4 linked regions of the Homo sapiens genome follow. The protein of the gene in region 3 interacts with the protein of the main gene of each other region in a biochemical or structural test. Each region holds a gene or a part of one and is shown on either strand. Other genes may lie near its edges.

Region 1 (3,500 bases), on a different chromosome or scaffold from region 3:
GATCATTTGGCGAGAAACGCTATGAACCCATCCAGGCCACTCCCCCTCCTCCTCCATTGCCCTCGCAGTATGCCCAGCCATCTCAGCCTGTCACCAGCGCGTCTCTCCACATACATTCTAAGGGAGCACATGGTGAAGGTAGGAAGTTCGGAAGTAGACATTTTAACACAGTAATGCTTATGAAGTAAAATTCTGGTGGTTTCTAGGCAAAATGGTTTTTACATTAAAAAATACATGCTTGAAACCTTTGGGCTGGGAACAGTAAAAACTAAGAATTTTGTTAAAAGTATGTCTCCTGTTTTTACAAGACCATTATTTTGGACAAGCCTTTTAGCTAAACAGATTTTAATCTATTTTATGCTAGTCTCTAAATCTTCTGGAAGTAGTGTTTGCCAGTATATGTAAAGATGGTTTGTAAAACCTACTATGTTTTATCTCACACACCCAAATAGAAAAGCCATAATGTTTCATATAAAATGTATCCCATACACCTTGACTTTTGCATTTACATACCAGGTAGATCACATATAGCTCCAGATTATTCATCTTAAGAGCTTTGTAACATTTTACCCTCAGCATATAACACAAAGTGGTTATCTCTTCTGCTGTGGACAGGCATTTTCCTAGCACAGACTTCTCTTATTATTCCCTTAGGAGGCACCTCCTTGGGCTTGTGAGTCTTCAAGCAGATGTGTTATAGTTCTGGATTGAGGCTATCTTTTATTAAGATTTTTTTTCACACATGCCCATGTTTACAGATAAAGACAGTTTTAATTCTTACTTTCCAGTCCTTATGCCTTTTCTCTTTTTTTTTTTCCTCTTTTTGAGACGAAGCCTTGCTCTCGCCCAGGCTACAGTGCAGTGGCGCAGTCTCAGCTCACTGCAACCTCTGCCTCTCGGGTTCAGGTGATTCTCCTGCCTCAGCCTCCTGAGTAGCTGGGACTATAGGCGCACACCACCACGCCCGGCTAATTTTTGTATTTTTTGTAGAGACAGGGTTTCATCATGTTAGCCAGGCTGGTCACGAACTCCTGACCTCAGGTGATCCGCCCACCTCGGCCTCTCAAGAGTGCTGGGATTACAGGCATGAGCCACCGCACCTAGCCTTCTTTCTTTTCTTGCTGATTGCACTGGCCAGGACCTCCAATAAACTCTGAAATGTAAGTGGTGAAATTGGACCTCTTTTGCTAGTTCCTGATTTTAAGGAGGAAGGACCTCATGTTTTATCCTTTAGAATGTTAGCTCTAGGATTTTCGTAGATGTCCTTTATCATGTTTAAGACATTCCCTATATTCAGAGTTTGCTGAAAGCAGTCAGATGTTTTTCCTGCATGTATTAAGATGACCATATGATTTTTCTTCTCGTACTGTGGAAAATTATATTACTATATTCATGAGGTATTTGGATTAATAATTCTCCTGTCTTGTAGTGTCCTTAATTATTTCACAGAGTTCAGTTGGTACTGTGTTACACTGTGGCTGGCAGTGCATAAAAAATCCTGTGGTTCCACTTTTTAACCAATGTTTGGCATCATCAGACTTTTCGGTTTTTCCATTCTAGTGGGTGTGAAATAGTATTTAATGCTTTTTGTTGGTTTTGTTTTACATTTTTCTAATTAATAGTGAGTATCCTTATTATATGATTATTGGGCATTCTAGTTTTCACAAAGACTAGTGCCAATCTTTGGAGGCCAGGAATCTTAGCAGCTGGACCCTGACTCCAGGGCAGCAGGGTATATATATTCATGGCACCACCTGTCCATGCTGCCCTCATCCCTCAGCATCACACCTAGCCTCCAGGGCTCAAGAGTCAGGCTCTGGCTGTGCGACCCACATTTGGGCCTCGACTCCAGCACCAGGACAAGTTAAGCTGGGACAGGGCTATTATAACTTTTTTCAGAAAGTTATTTAAATGCTTACGTTTGTTTTTCAGGTAATTCAGTGTCATTGGATTTTCAGAATTCCTTAGTGTCCAAACCAGACCCACCTCCATCTCAGAATAAGCCAGCAACTTTCAGACCACCAAACCGAGAAGATACTGCTCAGGCAGCTTTCTATCCCCAGAAAAGTTTTCCAGATAAAGCCCCAGTTAATGGAACTGAACAGACTCAGAAAACAGTCACTCCAGCATACAATCGATTCACACCAAAACCATATACAAGTTCTGCCCGACCATTTGAACGCAAGTTTGAAAGTCCTAAATTCAATCACAATCTTCTGCCAAGTGAAACTGCACATAAACCTGACTTGTCTTCAAAAACTCCCACTTCTCCAAAAACTCTTGTGAAATCGCACAGTTTGGCACAGCCTCCTGAGTTTGACAGTGGAGTTGAAACTTTCTCTATCCATGCAGAGAAGCCTAAATATCAAATAAATAATATCAGCACAGTGCCTAAAGCTATTCCTGTGAGGTAAGACTTATGCCTTTGCTCAAAGCATTGGCCCTGTGATTTTTCTCATGTGAGTTTGTTGTAGTTTATTTGACTTGGGACTTTAAAGTGATCTTTTTAACTCAACCTTTAAACTGAAGAGTGTTGTTGCAATGAATGCTGTTACATAGAAGGTCCTCCAGGAGGTACAAGATGTTGGTAAAATAATAAAGCTAACAGTCGTGTATGGTTGGTAGGTATTGTCATCATCCCTGTTTTACTAAGAACTGAGGTTGAGTGACAGTAAGCAGTTTGCCCAGGGTCACAGCTAGAGTGAGGTGAGCCTCAATTTAGCTGCTGGTCATCCGACCTCTGAGCCCATGCTTTTTTTTTTTTTTTTTTTTGAGACAAGAGTCTCCCTCTGTCGCCCAGGCTGGAGTGCAGTGGTGCGATCTTGGTTCACTGCAACCTCCACCCCCTGGGTTCAGGCAATTCTCCTGCCTCAGCCTCCTAAGTAGCTGGGACTACAGGTGTGTGCCACCACGCCTGGCTAAATTTTTTGTATTTTTAGTAGAGGTTTTCACCATGTTGGCCAGACTGGTTTTGAACTTCTGATCTCAAGTGATCCATCCGCCTCCACCTCCCAAAGTGTTAGGATTACAGGCGTGAGCCACTGCACCCAGCCAGGAGCCCATACTCTTAACCAGCCATGACCTTTTGTAACCTCCTGACCTACTGGTAAGGTGCATGTGGAGGACATCTAAAAACATTAAGTATCTATGTTCCTCATTCATTATTTGTTCCACAATGATGCTAAGAAGAAAAATAGAATAACCTCTGACTGTTTAAAGAGCAGCAGTTAGTGAGATGGCTGAGCAAATGAGACAAAGTGAGCCCACCTGGAGCCTCCCTGCAGCTCCTCTTTCCTGTCTTTCATTCCACGGCGATTGACCAGATGGATTCTGGCCATACATAAAAGCTCATCTCAGCCTCCTACAGCCAGTTCCATTTTCACGCCACCATAAAGCAGAAGCACTTGCAGGCAGGGAGAACCAAAGGTCAGGATGGCCACCTGAGTCTGCTTTCCAAGAGAAAGGATGGTTATGGCGGTCACTGCCTTCCTAGCTCTGCA
Region 2 (3,500 bases), on a different chromosome or scaffold from region 3:
CCCTCTGCCCTGAACACAATTCCCTCTCCTCTTCATCTAATAAGGTTGTAGAACAGACCTTAGCTCCTCCTGACTTCCCAAACTCTAGTATCTTTCACCTGCTGTGCAAGCACTAGCCTAGTGTCCAACACATGGTAGATACACAATCAATATTTACATGGTAAGCGGCCAGAGGTACGACATTACTGGTATTAGATAGACACAGACTCTTTCTCCATCTGGTCTCTGGCCTGAATCTAGGATAGGGTCTTAACTTCTTTTGGGCCATGGACCACATTTTCTCCATTCATTCTCTCGACTGACAAAATAATAATCAATCAACTCCTACTATATGCCAGGTACTCTTCCAAGCCCTGGGCATGCAGCACTGAATAAGACAGCAAGTTTCTTCTGGAATTTACATTCTAGTGGAGGGGATAGAAGATAAACAACTAATACACATAATCAAGCCAGATGATTTCAAAGAGCAAACATGACCTGAAACCTGACACCTGAAAGGTGAGTGATTCTTGCCTTAAGTATCGGGTAGGAAGTAGCCTGGGCAGAGAGAACAGTAAGTGCCAAGGCCCAGGTACGGTTACAGCATAGTGGGGTCCAGGAGAAAGATATGAGATGAGAATAAAGGGAGTTCTGCATGAGACTTTGGAGGTCTAAGCCCTCTGAGGCCCATTTACAGACTCTGCTCAAGAACCCCTGCTGAAGGGTTCTCAAAATACTTACTCTTTCACTTGCACAGTGGTGGCGTAGTTGGAGCAGGCACTCTCCACGGACACGGAGAAGCCCCGCCTGCCTTCAGTGGTGGCCGGCATGGAGATGAGCGTGACAGAGTAGGGCAGCTGCTCCTGAACAGACTCTGTGGAGAGTCTCTCAAACATGGGTGCCAGCACCACCTCATTGTGGCACTTCCCACTGGGGAGAGGGCACAGGGGGGAATAAGATGCTAGAGTCCCACACAGAAGCCCCCCAGCAACCACTGCACCATGTGGCTTTAAGCAACAGTACCCATAGTCTCACTACCACCCTCTTTGTCATGATTCTAGCTGGCTGCTCAGAATGAGGAGCCTGGGTTCTCAGGGTGGGCTGGGACTGGGGGTGCTGAGCTAGATCTGCAGCAAGTGGTATATTTGGAAAAACACTGGCCTGGGTTGGGGTGAGATGGTCTGGGTTCTCTTCACTCTACCTTTGACTCACAATGAGAACCTTGCCCTTGTACTATTCTATTCCATGGGCCCCAGGCTGACTTCTTTTATCAACCAAGGTGGTTGGACAGGGTGAGCTCTAAGGGGTCTTTGACTTTAATGTTCTGGGATCGTCCTTGAAGAGTGCCTCCCACTGGGAGGATTGCAGGGCAGAGTGAAGACATTTTCAAGGTTGGTAAGGAAAAAGGGTAGAGACATGTGTAAATCATTCTGCTTACAAGTTAAAGAGCTGGTTAAGAGCACTGCTGTGGTAAGAATCCAATGCTCTGACTACCCTAACACTCCTTCTGCCCAACTCACCCTGCCACTGTCCCTCCCCGCCAGCCACTCTTATATGGGAGAGGATAGACAAAGGACCACTATCTTACCAGTAGAGGGTGGCATGCTGCACCAGTGCATATGCATCCCCATCCTCAATGATCACCTTGCAGCTCATACAGGCAAAGCACTCTGGGTGGTACTTGAACTCCCCAGCCACCTGTGAGCAGGTGGGGAGAAGGGTGTACAAAGGGAGGAAGGAAGTGAGTTATCACTGTTGCTGGAGTGAGGACAGGGGTGGGTGAATGACCTCCAAGCAAGGCCCCCGTCAAAATCCACTCTTTCACTCTCTGCCCTAGAGCTTCCAAAGGAAGTGTCAGATTGGTACCTCCTGTCATTTCTGAGACTGCACAAAACTGTTTTGGTCTCAGTTATGAGAAGAAATCCCCAGAAGTAATCATCCCCACTAAAAAAGATCAGTTCTTCCAATACAGGGTTGGCAAGTCTGTCACTATGCTTAAAGTCGTTTGTCCAGAGCAGGTATAGGAGGTAGCCCCTCTCTCTGCCAGCCTATTCCAGAGTCTCCTTTTCTGATTCCCTAAAGACAACCTAAGTATATCCTCCTCTCAGCCTGTAACACTCTCCTTGGAGGTCCTTATCCAACTATATTGTGTCTCCTCTCTGCCTGCCTCTCCTCCCACTCCCAACGTTCAACTATTAAGTCTTTGAGGGAAGGATCTTACCTTTCACTTAGTAGGTGCTCAATTGATACCTGCTAGTTGAATGAATGAATAAATAAAGGGAGATGCCCTGGCTGATGGAAAGACTAAAAGATTAACAGGCCACAGGGAACTGGAAGCACTGTCAATGGACTCTGAAGACCAAGAGGGGCAGATATGAAGGGATTCACTCACCATAAAAGGCCCTGTCATCAGCAGGGAGCACCCATGACAGAACTCCCCAAACTTCCCCCAGTAGTCCTTGGGGCAGTAGAGCTTCCCATCCTTCTCATAGTACCAGTTGGTGAGGGAATCCTGGCATTCTGAACACCTGAAAGGCAAGACAAGAACTGAAATTCTCCTGGATCCCTGGAACCAGGCCACATAAGCTGTCCCTGGTTCCTAGGTATGACAACAAAATGGACAGTCCTCTTTGATCCAAAGCCAAGATGGGGCAAAGTTACAGCCTTGTGCTATCTCCCCAAGGGAAGCTGGTTCAGACTGAACAAGGCCCCAGAAACCAGCTCTGTGTTGCCTGCCTCAGTGGACAGACTAGTGTTTCATAACCTCTTTGGGTCTTGGGGCCCTCTGAGAATTTGATAAAAGCCAAGAAGCCTCCCCTAGAAAAATGAATATATAAAGAAGATGTGTATATAATTTAGGTGGGGGACAGGGTGTATATATAAAGGATTCTCTGAAACCTATTTATGGCACCAGTTAAGGATCTCTGGTCTTGACAGATACTTCAATGAACAAAAGCAGTTTAATCATCTCCACTCTTCAAAACTGACCCATCACCAACAGCGTTACCAATGTAATGTTCTTGCCAAAAATACGTTAAGTATAAAAAAACTAATCAGGCAAATCTAGAATGTGGGTTATTCTATAAGAATAACCGGTCTTGACTCTTCTAAAAAGTCATGGGGAGAAGAAAAGGCACAGATTTTAAAAACCCTAGAGACACAGCAACCAAATACAATGCCTCAAACTTGGATTCAAATTTAGATTAAAAAAGGAAACAGCCATGAACATTTTTTGGAACAACTGAGGAAATATGGATTTGGACTATAATATTATATTGTAAAATTGCCGTGAATTTTCTTAGATGTAATGATATCTGACTTATATAGGAGAATTCTTAGCAGAAACATATTGAACTGTTCAAGGGTAAAATCAAGATGCCTTTAAGTTACTCTGAAATAGTTCAGCAAAAATAAATAAATAAAAGTATACAGATAGAGGGAGAGAGATATATACAAAGTGGCATAACATTAACAAATCATGAATCTATGTGAAAGGTATGTAGGTGTTCTTTGAACTACAT
Region 3 (3,500 bases):
AGTGTGATGGCACGATCTCGGCTCACCGCAACCTCAGCCTTCCAGGTTCAAGCAATTCCCAGCCTCAGCCTCCCGAGTAGCTGGGATTACAGGCATGCACCATCACACCCGGCTAATTTGATATATTTTTAGTAGAGGTGGGGTTTCTGCACGTTGGTCCGGCTGGTCTCAAACTCCGACCTCAGATGATCCACCCACCTCGGCCTCCCAAAGTGCCGGGATTACAGGCGTTAGCCACCGCACCCAGCCCGAATTAAACTCTTCTTAAGAGGTAGGACTCCCTTGGCTCGTTTCCTCCAGTTATACCTAGGGTAAGGGCAGCGTGTTCTCCACACTCCCCTTTCTCATCCTTAACAAGTCAAAAAAGACCAACACGCCTGCCCAGCTTTAAAAAAAAAAAATGAAAAAAAATTCTTTTGCTTTTTGAGACAGAATCTGGCTCTGTCACCCAGGTTGGAGTGCAGTGACACAATCTCGGCTCACTGCAACCTCCACCTCCCTGGCTCAGGCAATCCTCCCACCTCAGCCTCTCAAGTAGCTGGGACTACTGGCATGCTACCACACCCAGCTAAATTTTGTATTTTTTTTTTTCCTAGAGACAGGGTTTGCCATGTGCCCAGGCTGGTCTCAAACTCCTGGGCTCAAGTGATCCATCTGCCTCAGCCTCCCAAAGTGCTGAGATAACAGGCATGAGCTGTGTCCAGCCCCAACTAAAATTTGGGAGGATGGGGTTGCCATGGAGCACCCAGTCTTAATTACAAGGACTAGAGAAATTCTGCCCCCTCCCTTCCTCAGCTTGTCCAACAGTCAGAACTCTCTTCTCTCTCCTTCTTTCTCTTCCTCTCTCCTCTTGGTGCCTGTTGGACCTCACTGGTGACAGTGACACTGTAGCAGGTGGGGGGAAGTGTGGCCAAAAGGGCAACATTAGATGCAAACCCAAAGCCTAAAAATAACCCCACCAACTTCTTCAGGAGGCTCTCCTGGCCATCCCACCATGTACACCCCAATGCTCCACCCAGTGTAACCAGACCCAGGCAGAGAAGAGTGCTTTTGGCCTCCTAAAGTTAGATATGAGCAGCTCAGCACTTTTACTCTGCTCCTATATGAGGACCAATGACAGACACTTCTGCCCCCGGCCCCATGCAGGCATCTATTTCCACTCTCCCCCAGCCACTCAGAGAGGGTGGAGGAGGAAGAAAGGAAATGGAGAAGGCCCTTCTTCCTCAGCTATACCATCCTGTGCCTGGCCCCTCTCCAGTCTCCTCTTTCTTTGGAGAAGGAGCCTGACTAGAATATATCTTGAAGGACCGTTTCAGTCTCCACACCTGGGGCTTCTTAGGGAATAGACTGACCCTTTAAATGGAAGAATGGCTCAAATGGGAGGTGGCTGTAAAAACTCAATTAACTCTTTCTAGGGTTGCCAGATTTAGCAAATCAAATATAGGATACCACTTAAATTTGAATTTCAGATGCACAACAAATTTTTATTTTTTTTTTTTAGATGGGTTCTCTGTCACCCAGGCTGGAGTGCAGTGGTGTGAACATGGCTCATGTTCATGCATCCTCTACCTTCCAGGCTCAAGCCATCCTCCCACCTCACCCTCCAGAGTAGCTGGGATTACAGGTGTGCGCCACCAGACCCAGCTAACTTTTTAATTTTTTGTAGAAACAGAGTCTTGCCATGTTGCCCAGGCTGGTCTCCAACTCCTGGACTCAAGCAGTCCTCTTGCCTTGGCATCCCAAAGTGCTGGGATTACAGGTGTGAGCTACCACACTTGACCCAAATACTTTTTTAGTATAGATATGCCTCCAAATATTGCTTGGGACTTACTTATACTAAAAAAATTATTCATTTGCATCTGAAATTCAAATTTAAGTGGACATCCTGTATTTTTATTTTAATGTCCCAAATATTGCATGGGACATATTTAAAAAAGAATTCATTGTGCATCTGAAACTCAAATTTAATTGTATATTCTGTATTTTAAAATTTCAATTTTATTCTTTGCCTTATCTTCTTCCTTTTTTCTTTTTTCTTTCTTTTTTTTTTTTTTTTGAGACAGAGTTTCACTCTTGTTGCCCAGGCTGGAGTGCAGTGGCACAATCTGGGCTCACTGCAACTCCACCTCCTGGGTTCAAGTGATTCTCCTGCCTCAGCCTCCTGAGTACCTGGGATCACAGGAACCCACGACCACGCCCAGCTAATTTTTTGTATTTTTAGTAGAGATGGGGGTTTCACCATGTTGGCCAGGCTGGTCTCAAACTCCTGACCTCAGGTGACCCACCTGCCTCGGCCTCCCAAAGTGCTGGGATTACAGGTGTGAGCCACCATGCCTGGCTGCCTTATCTTCTTTCTAAAATTTTTTTAAATTTTTATCTTTATGTCCCAAATATTGCATGGAGCATACTTCACTAAAAAATTATTCATTGTGTATCTCAACTTCAAAATACAAGACTGGACTGCCCCACTGGGCATCCTGTGTTTTATCTGGCAATCTATCTTTAACACTTACCTTTACTGGGAAGGAATTTTCTCCCTAAGGGTGTGGTATTCTCCAACCCTTCAGTGGCTCTATGATGAAAACTGGGTTTCAGAGGTGGGCTGTAACTCACCCTGGAGCTGTTGCGGGCTCAATATATCTGGGGGTTTAACAAATTTATAAATTTTCAGGGAGGGGATGTTGACTGCATTTTGGAGGTTCAGGGCCTACTAACAAGCTGTCAGAACAGGCACCAGGCTTTGAGATAGTGATAAAGTTCCAGACTCACCATTGAGCTGTCAGAGAAAACATCAGGGTGGTTCTCATAAATAAACTTCTCCACCCTCATCTGCCGCAGTTTGAACATCTTGGAGCCCCGGTTGGTAAGCAGCGACAGTTCCTCCAACATCACATCCCTTGGGACACTGATCTTTTTGCCCAGGTTCAAGCCTGAGCTCTCCTGTCCACCTTTCAGGGAGGCAAAGAAGAAGAATCAAGGGAAAGAGGAAAGTAGGGTTTTCTGGGCTCAGAATGCAGACCTCATCCACAACTAAGTGTGTATGTGTGTCCTGGCAGAGGTCATTTAGGGGAACAAATGCTGTCTAGTTTGTGAGGGATTTTGATTTCCTGGGACTTGGAGAGAATGCATGGGAACTGGGGTGCACTGTGGAGATAATGGGAATACTAGAGTGGAGAGGCCAATGGGGTAAAAGAGGTACGGGCATGGGGTACAGAGCAAAAGGAGTAAAGGAACATCATAGATGGAGGCCATTGGAGAAACCATGGCATCAGGAAAAACCCAGAGGCCAATCTTGTGTGGAGTCCAAATACAGATGCCATATATATATATATATATATATTTGTTTTTATTTTTTATTCTTTTTTTTCATTTTTTTGAGACAGAGTCCTGCTCTATCATCCAGGCTGGAGTGGAATGGCGCGATCTCAGCTCACTGCAGCCTCCGCCTCCCAGGTTCAAGCAATTCTCCTGCCTCAGCCTCCCAGGTCGCTGGGATTGCA
Region 4 (3,500 bases), about 25 Mb from region 3:
TATATGACAGGAAAAAAAAATAAAGTGACAATACCAAATGCTTATGAGGATACAGAGAAACTGGATCTCTTCTAAGTTGATGGTGGGAATGTAAGTGGTACAGCCACTTCAGAAAAGAGTTTGTCAGTTTCTTTTTAAAAAAGAGAAAAACTAAACATACTCTTACTATACAACTGAGCAATTGTGCTTCTGTGCACTTATCCCAGAGGAAAAAAAATGAATATCCACACACAAAGCTGCATGTGAACGTGTGTGTTTTATTTGTAATAGCAGCTTTATTTGTGATAGCCAAAAACTGTTAAGTCAAAATGTCTTTCATTTGGTGAATGGTTAAACAAATTGTGGTATATTCATACCATGGAATACTACTCAGCAATAAAGAGCAAACTATTGATACGTGCAACAGCTTGATTAGATCTCAAGGGCATTAGGCTGAATGAGAAAAACCAGTCTCAAAAGGTCACAGCTTGTGAGACTGATCTCAGAGATAGTAGAAGCAGGGTGGTAGGGAGTAGAATGGGAGCTGGGGGAGATCTTTGTGGCGATAGAATAGTTTTGTATCTTGATTGTGGTAGTGGTTACATAAATCTACACAAGTATTACAATGGCATAGTACTTTACACACATATTGTACCAATGTCAAATGTCTGGGTTTGCCATTGTGCTGTAGTTAGGTAAGATATAATCACTGGGGGACACTGGAGGAAGAGTATAGGGACTTCTCTGTGCTCTTTGCAACTTCTTTGCAACTTTTTATCTGACCATATATGAAAATTAAATGTAAACAAAAATATGCAACAGATTAGGAGAAAATATATATAATGGCAAAAGGGTTACTATTTACTCATCAATTAGAAAAAAACAACTCTTTAATTTAAAAGTTAAGAAATAAACAGGTGAAAAAATACAACTACTCAATAAATATTTGAAAAGATTTGCTGTGTTTCTAGTAAATCAGGGAAAACAAAACAGCAATGAGAATTTATCAAGAGGGTCAAAAATTTAAATATTTGATGTTAGCAAGGTGGGGGCTGCAGACCAGGCCCTCTCATAACACCCATTAACATGGGAATTAAATTGGTATAGATTTTTCAGAGCCATCTATCAAAATTGAGAACATGTATTTGCCAAGTCCCAGCAATGCCAATTCTCTGCCTCCTAGGGAACATTTCTAAGCATATAGGAAATAGGATGCACAGAGGCGTGTTGCATGTGGATGTTGCTGGTGGGGCAGGTGGTACCTAGTACAAGGGTGGCCAGCGTCACTGAAATGCAGCCTTCAGAGGGATGCAGAAGCTGAACAGGCCTGAGAGTTCCCCCTTCACGGAGAGCATAGCCTTCTCTCCTCCTGCAGTGATGATTGAGGGATAAACCTCTGGCTGATGGGACTCAGGCAGGGCCAGGCCGTCCGTGGGTTCCCAGCCTAATGCAGGTTGAGAAGTGGCTTGCCCTGTCACAAACCCCACTGGGTGAATGCTTTGTTTAAAAATTTTCCTCTAGAAGTGAAGCAGCTTCATTCAGTCAAATTAATCCATCCAGAGCAGACCATTAAAAATACTGGTTAGTGAAGAGGGGGTCCTTAACTCACACTTGACAGACCCAGGAGACCTGCTGTAGCACAGATGGGAAATGGGAGACAGCCAAGGTGTGAGGGTGAAGGCTTGTCCAGAATCCCACTCCGAGTGGTTTCAGGGAGAGGACTCTGGTCTCAAGCTCTTCTCCTGGGCTTTATTTACCACATACCCCTCCTCAGGCCCTGAGTCAGGAAGTTGCTTCCCACAGTGATATCTACAAAGAGCTATACAGCCAGCTGGGATAAGGGATGAAGGTCAAACCGAAAGTGACTATTTCTGTGCAAAGAATCAGAGAGAAAAATCTTATGGGCCCAACAGCAGTAGGTAATTGAGAAAGTGAGACTAAGAAAAGTCATAAAAGAAACGGTGATTCCTTATTAAACAATATGGAAAAACTGTCCACTCCTGCCTATAATCCAAGGAGCTGCTAGTGGACGTGGTCTCGAGGCCCATTTTCATCCCTCAAGTGGGCTTCGATGATGAGCGCTCAGTGCCCATGAGGTGGCAATGACACTGTTCCTCTCAGAGACCTTACTTATGTGTGGCCAATTTGCGACAGCTGATTTGTAAAGCAGTTTGGCAATCTGTATCAAAAGCCAAGGGATGTCCATTCCTGCCATCAGGGTCTTCCTCTTCTGGGAATTGATGCCAAGAACATAATTGACAAAGATGTATATTCAAAGATATTTGCCATGGTATTATTTGTAACAATGAATAAAGGCAATGCCAAATGTCAGTGGTCTTTGGGTTTCTCTCTGCCCTGGCTCCCTCTTCAAATCACTCTACATGCTCCAAAGTTACCAACCATCAGTCCATCCCCTCCACAGCCATGTCTTAAGCTCAGACCCGTTTCTTGAGCTCCTGCTTGGTGATCCCAGGATGTCCTTTAGACAACCCCCTTAGATGTAGAGAGCTGAATTCACCTTCCCCCCACCTCCTCCTCTTTCAACCTCTCTTATTTGAATACAGCAAATGGCATTCCCACCACCTAACCCCTCAAGCCAAACATTCAGACGACATTTTTGTCTCCTTCCCATCCCTCAACTTCCCAGCCCGTTAATCACCATCTCCAAAATCTCTCTAAAATCCGCCTGTTTCTCTCCAACCCCACCACCACTGACCTGGTCTAAGCCACCAGCACCCTCCCCTGAATGACCACTGAAATGTAAATTCTACAAAATGGTTTCCTACAACCATACCTTGCCCCTGCCCTGATCCATTCTCTGTCTTGCAGAGTCCTCTTCCTAAAACACAAATCTGACCATGTCACACCTCGTGAAAACTTTCAGCCACTTTCTATTCTCCAAAGGATCAGCTCAGATCCTGAGCAAGATTTGCAGGACCTCAGGCCCACCGCTTTGGACTGATCTCTAGCAGCTTCCTCTTTCCCCCATGGCCTTTTTCCAGCCTTAGACGCACCACAACCCCCTTGCCTCCTGTCCTTCTGCAGGCTCTGTGGGGACACTCGCATCTGGAGCTCCTTCTTCCCCCACTGGCTGAATGACTCAGTAAATTAACAAGTGAATACTTCAGATGCTGCCTGCACTCTGGACTGGCATCATACAAAAATGATACTGATAGAAGAAACAAAAGAAATTCCTAGATGGCACTTTTTTAAAATGTCTAATACATTTACTCTCCAGCCAGACACTGTTTAACCCATCTTGAATCTATTGAAGAGTGAGTTCTGACAGCTCAGCCTTGATCTGCCTCCTGCCTGGCACCAGCCCTCCTGGAACTGGTTCCTGTGCACCATCCTACACATCTCCTTCCTGCCTCCCTTCACTACCTACTCTATTTCCAACAATGTTGGGCTATGATAGCTCAAGCAAATACAGGAATAAGGAGGCTTACAGCCAAGGCAAGAAAAAAAAAGGGAGGGCAGTTAACAGTAGAGCTGCCAGCGACCAGTAAAAGGAAGCCTGA

Evidence for each region.
Region 1: the proteins of MYOZ1 (region 3) and TJP1 interact in a test that uses a peptide from one of them, tested with the Homo sapiens proteins (one large-scale study listed by IntAct).
Region 2: the proteins of MYOZ1 (region 3) and LIMK2 interact in a test that uses a peptide from one of them, tested with the Homo sapiens proteins (one large-scale study listed by IntAct).
Region 4: the proteins of MYOZ1 (region 3) and FRMPD2 interact in a test that uses a peptide from one of them, tested with the Homo sapiens proteins (one large-scale study listed by IntAct).

What each region holds. Positions count from the first base shown.
Region 1 is NC_000015.10:29,707,469-29,710,968, reverse strand, and holds part of TJP1 (tight junction protein 1), read left to right. Parts: coding exon 1-138; intron 139-1,932; coding exon 1,933-2,410; intron 2,411-3,500. UniProt on the Homo sapiens protein: TJP1, TJP2, and TJP3 are closely related scaffolding proteins that link tight junction (TJ) transmembrane proteins such as claudins, junctional adhesion molecules, and occludin to the actin cytoskeleton.
Region 2 is NC_000022.11:31,257,298-31,260,797, reverse strand, and holds part of LIMK2 (LIM domain kinase 2), read right to left. Parts: intron 2,508-3,500; coding exon 2,372-2,507; intron 1,678-2,371; coding exon 1,568-1,677; intron 910-1,567; coding exon 721-909; intron 1-720. UniProt on the Homo sapiens protein: Serine/threonine-protein kinase that plays an essential role in the regulation of actin filament dynamics. Acts downstream of several Rho family GTPase signal transduction pathways.
Region 3 is NC_000010.11:73,634,975-73,638,474, forward strand, and holds part of MYOZ1 (myozenin-1), read right to left. Parts: intron 2,949-3,500; coding exon 2,770-2,948; intron 1-2,769. UniProt on the Homo sapiens protein: Myozenins may serve as intracellular binding proteins involved in linking Z-disk proteins such as alpha-actinin, gamma-filamin, TCAP/telethonin, LDB3/ZASP and localizing calcineurin signaling to the sarcomere.
Region 4 is NC_000010.11:48,268,197-48,271,696, forward strand, and holds part of FRMPD2 (FERM and PDZ domain-containing protein 2), read right to left. Parts: intron 1-3,500.